Linked DNA regions of Homo sapiens: region 1 is linked to region 2. The links come from fine-mapping of genetic effects on gene expression. Tissue or cell type: whole blood. Region 2 holds a variant in brackets; the other region holds the start of a gene. All regions are shown on one strand. Distances are from middle to middle.

What was found. PIP is the estimated chance that this variant, and not a neighbour inherited with it, causes the effect.
Region 1: EXD2 starts here. The variant in region 2 is fine-mapped to the expression of EXD2 in whole blood (TOPMed, PIP above 0.99).

The regions. Positions count from the first base shown.
Region 1 is chr14:69,190,392-69,193,011 of GRCh38, forward strand. EXD2 (exonuclease 3'-5' domain containing 2) reads left to right here and starts at 1,107. Exons shown (of 10, transcript NM_001193360.2): 1 at 1,107-1,200. All of the region lies in intron 3 of GALNT16-AS1 (GALNT16 and EXD2 antisense RNA 1), which reads right to left. RefSeq lists a silencer at 1,328-1,517.
Region 2 is chr14:69,249,098-69,251,855 of GRCh38, forward strand. The region is part of intron 2 of GALNT16-AS1 (GALNT16 and EXD2 antisense RNA 1); the gene reads right to left. Among named protein-coding and RNA genes, the nearest start is that of GALNT16, 9.7 kb to the right of the region's middle. The variant C/T (reference allele first, on the strand shown) is at 1,328.

The DNA.
Region 1 (2,620 bases), 59 kb before region 2:
GGAGCAGATAAAAATTCAGGGAGTTAATCCTCTATAATAGCTGGAAATTTCCCCCATGGGTACTCATTCAATGGAATTTAAAACATTTGCCCCTGTATTGAAGGCAATATAGTATAAAGGATGGGGCCACATGCTCTGCAATCAGAAATATGAGGTTTGATTCCTAACTCCGGTGCTTACTTGCTGAATTACCTTGAGGAAGTTATTTAACCTTTTTCTATTTTATGTAAAACGGCACTAATAATAGTACTGCCTCACAGGGTTGTTATGGGGATTAAAGGAGAAAAAATAAGTAAAATGCTTTGCAAAGTTCCTAGCAACAGGTGAGCACAAAGTCAACAAATGGTAGCTATTATTATACCTTATATTGGTTATTTATGCACATCTCATTTCTCCTTCTGTTTTACACATTCCATGAGAAAGGAAAAGCATGCATGTAGCACAGATTAACTGCCTCACATATAATTGCTAATAAAGACTGATTGGATGAACGATTTAATATATAAACAAAAAGTATTGTGGTTATCGCTATAAAAGATGGCATAGGTTGGGCATTCACGCCTGTAATCCCAGCACTTTGGGAGGCCGAGTTGTGAGGTTCGCTTGAGCCCAGGAGTTCGAGACCAGCCTAGGCAATGTAGGGAGACAGTATCTACAAAAAAAAAAAAAAAAAAAAAAAAGGAGGGTACATAAAATTATTATAGTGGCTATAGGATAATGTGCACTGCTAATGAAGACTACATTATTTAAATACAGTGTCTTTCCTTCTATTTACTGTTATCGTTTAGCAGAAAAACAGTACGCAGGATACTAAAGAAGGAAAATTCGATGTCCCATATTACATTTGTGAGAGTTCTGGAGGTTTCTCCCTTCAAAGCCAAAACCAAAACACAAACATACCATCCCAGTAACAAATGCGTCACTTTTCTGAAGAAGACGTTAAGCCCTTCCAATTTTAACAGATCCTTTGTTCAACAGAGGAGAGAGACTGGGTAGGCATCACCTGCCCCAGTAGCTTCCGTACAAAATGGCGTTGCCCGTTCCCACACGCCAGCTGGGATTACGTCCTCCAGGCCTGTCGCAGGAACGGAAGTGGTTACGGCCCTAGTGAATCCGGGTGGGTGCGCGCAGGCGGCCGCACAGGTTCCAGGTCTTTAACGTGAGCCCGCTGCAGGTGTGCGGCCCAGTCCGAGACAGCAGGTAAGTGAGGCTCAGAAGCCGGCGAAGCCTTGCACCAGGATTGTGCGCGGGGCAGGGGGTGCTTCCAGTGCAGACTAAGAGGGGTCGTGGAGCGGGGGGATATTACCGTGTACGGGGGTGACATTGCGGGGCCCCCGCTGTCCCGGAGCGAGTTGGCCCTGCCCCTCTCCCCGCCCCTCGGCGTGACCCCCTCGCCCCCGTCGCACACGGCGGGGCGGTTCAGCACCCAGGTGCGCAAGGAGGGCCTCACCCCTGCCCGCGGCCTCCCACGCCCTCCTTGGGCCTCTCCTTTCGACCCCCTTACCCTCTCCCTGGGAGACTCTACCAGACCTTCGAGGCTGCGTGTCCCAGTCAGCTAAAAAGGAGGCCCCGCCCGCGGCACCTGGTAGCTCCTCGGGCGCTGCGGGTTCGACGCGGCAACAGCTGCTGTTTTCTCTCCTGGATTCGTGTGAGCCGCCACCCTCGCTACCATCCCTGTCCTCCCAGACCACACCCTGCTCTGGGCCTTGCCGGGAGCCACCTCTTTGGCTTTTCACATCCCTGGGATGGATCAAAACTAAGAACCTTAATCATTATTTATTACAAAATTGACATCTGCTCCTTAAAATACAAACAAACCAATCCCCCGATAAGCTTTTGATATGATTCCAACATTCAAACTCCTTTATATACCCTCTCCTCAAAAACACAAAATTGAAATTATACTTTATTTTCTTAGTTCTGTTCCAAGGATAGAAGGAATTGAAAGGTTTTGTTAATCATAGGAATTAGGAAGTGCGGGTTGGGGCGCAGCGGGGAAGATGGATTAAATTTGGTCAAGTTGAGCTTGTTTTAAAAATGTATTTTTAAAATATTCTAGTTATAGTCCGTGCATAAAGCCTTGTAACAAAATTATGTAAAAATTTTAAACACAGATCTTTCTTAGCTTGATGTTCTTGGTGGTGAGGGTGGGGAGTGTGGAAGACAGATCCTCTTTGATTTTGTTTTTTTCCATCTCCACCTTCTTTACCAGTCCCTTTCCCACAAAATAAGAACTGTTGTCAGTTTGTGTGTATTTTTCTTTGCATTTATTTGACAAGTATGTGTACGTATAAGATATATGTTTGTAAGATTTCGCTTTAAACTTTTACAAATATGCATGTTTTATGCATTACACAACTTGACGTTTTATGCTTAAAAACGGGTCTTGGAATTTTTTCTTTGTCAGTACCTAGAGATCTACCTATTCTTTCTACTTGCTCTGTAAATTCCATGGTTATGTAAGATTCCATAGATTGTTTCCAGTTTTTCATTGTTAGACACAGTATGGCGGAGAACATCCTTCCCACACACCTCTGTGAGAGCCCATGTGAGAGCATTTCTCAAGGATGGGTACCTGCAGGTGGAATTGCTGGGTGGGAGAGTATGGGGATTTAGGAAT
Region 2 (2,758 bases):
CATTAAAAATGTTCTTTAAAAACTCAGTCTTTTGTTTGTTTTAAAGTAATGCTTAGTTGCAACCTAAAAGCAAACCATAGATTAATCTCTAGACAGAACCCCCTGCCCCACCATCCAAGTCAGACATTCAGAGTTCCCAATTTGCAAATTGTGACCTAGGATGGTTATTCACCTTTACAAGCCATCCTTCTGTTTAAACATAGGATTGACTTCAAATTTATTTTGAAAAGCCAGCTTCTCTGGCAGGTAAAATTTGATTTATACACTAATTCTTTCAAGAATATGAATATCATGCACAACAGAGGGCTTATATTCTGCCTTCTTGAACAGTGTTTTACACAACTCATGGGCTTATGAGCCAGGGAAGGAAGGACCTCTCATCCCCAACCCTCTCAAGTAGGAAGGAAACAAAATTTGCATAGATGGCTTTCCTGGGCCACTTCTCATAGACCCTAGCCTCATATTTTATTAATACTTTCTCTGTGGCAGGTGGATAAGGAGTCAGGTCTTCTCCAAATTAGAACTTCCCAAAGATACACAGTCCAGAGAAAGGAGCGAGGCTGTTGGTGTTTTCCAATTCAAGTCCCGTATGGTTTCCCTAGGGCCATTTTACCCTTGATGCCCTTTCATGCTCGCTCCTTTGTCTTGCCATAGTCTAAACACCCAAGGCCTCTCAGTCATCATTAAGAATATTCCCACTGGTCAGGGAGTGCCCTTTGAGCGTGCCCTTAAGAGCAGCTGTCAGATTTGAGCAGCATCTGCTTTCTGACAAGCTTGAAAACAGGATGAAGGAAGCCATTGAGTATTTCCCAGTGGAAATGGTACCACAAGCTGCCTTTGGGACTGTGTTCAATATGCGAGGAGTTTAGTGGCCTGGCAGCTTAGGTGGGGGTGGGGGATGTAAGTGTGGGTCATTCAGGATGGAGCAGGGATCTTCCCCATCCTGAATGGTCTCAGCCATGTCATCCATGCAGGGTCCTGATGCTGGAATCCTTCCCTCTCCCTCAGCCTTCGGCTCCAGCCTTTTCTGGGCAGGGAAACAGAATGAGGCAAAATGCCTGGTGTGTTTTAAATAGATTCTTCTTGTGGCAGCCAATGAGTCCAACAGCTTGGAAGGTGAGTGACCCTTCCCGAGAGACTTATGTTGTGCCATTTCTCTTGTCCCTAGCCCCTGGAATACTGACCACCTCGACCCCTCCTGCTGTCCTCCCCTTCGACCTAAACTCCAGTGATGTTAGCCATCCTCCTGCTGCTCCCTAGATGGACTGTCTTCAGGCTTTTCTGGTTTTAGTATTTATTACACTTCCCACTTGGCTTTTTCTGTCCC[C/T]AAAGCTGATTTTCCTCGTGCTATTTGTCCACTCCACCCAGTGCACATCCCCATCTGCTGCTGCTTGTCTGACTGTCATGGCTTCCCGATGATCTTCTTGCCTCCACCTTCCCGTGGCCTGCTTGGGGACAGCCCAGCCCCACCTGGGCCTGTGTGCAGCTGGGGAGGCAGGAGAGGCTGCTCATTGCAGTGGCAAACACTGGGGCCTGCAATGTGAGGTCAGCAGTCAGTGCTCCAGCACAGCCAGGACACCCCAGATTGAGCATGGGCAGCGTGCAGAGCCATTTTCAAAAGAGTATCTTTTAGCAAAGAGAGTTAGGACTTCAGAAGACCAATGTGGCCTCTTCCCACCCTATCCACGGAGACCACTTACAAGACCTAAGCATCATGATCTCTGGATTCCCAGTAAGGGGTCATACAAAGGAAGGACATGAATATTTTTTACTTGCTAAGGGGAGATTGGCTGTGTTGATTCTGGAAAGATGTAGGGTATGGGGTATGTGAATGGACGGTAGAGGCTCCTACCTCGAACAATCTCGGTTGTGGGGCAAGTGAGAGCTCCAGACTAGGAAGCAGACCTCAGTGATGATGGCTATTCTTGGCAGTGTGGCAGTGCCATAAGTCGGTGAAACAGGTAATGGGGGGGATCAGAAATCTGAGGAGGGGCATAGAGAACATAGGACACACAAGTGATGGGCCAGCACCCATTAAAGGTTAGAATCAAAAGAGGAAGGTCAGGTGGAGGCTGGATGTCATGAGGGAAAGTTGATGAGGAGCAGGCACTGGGGAGACCAGGGCAGTGGGACCCTGCCAGAGACCCTGCAGCTCAGCTCTGCCACATGGAGGCAAGCAGTTTGGGGATAAGGCCAGGAACAAAGGGATCTGTGAGGACCCTGTCTCCTACTCATCTCTTGCCCTTTTATTATTTTTTATGAGCCTGTCCTCATGTTATATTAGTAGTAGAAAACAAACAAAGGCAGTCTGCATTTGAAAGGGGATGGCACAGCCTGGAGAATTTAAGGCTGGATGTACTTCCCCTTTTGCTGAATTCTTAGGCCTCTTTGCCCATCTGCTGCTGGAGCTATGGGGCCAGTCCCTTACTGGAGCACTCTGAATGGAATCCCTACACAGCTCGACAGCTCAGATGAGTGCCGGCGGCAGGGGTAGCCAGCAGCGGGTGTGCACCCACAGAACCCCTCCAGGCCCATGGGGCAGCCGGGGGAGCAAGGCTGTTGGCCAGCCTGGCTAGAGAGGGACCCTTAGGGAGGGTCTGGTCTGAAGGCAGCTTCCAGCGTGTGACTCCAGCTCAGTCACTGGGCTCCTCTTCCCCTAGGCACTGAGCTGCAGAGAGGCCTGAGGTAGAAGAAAGAGGAAGGAAAACTTTTTTCTTGCTGGAAAAGAATTTTAGGTAAAGAGGTAAAAAAAATTGAA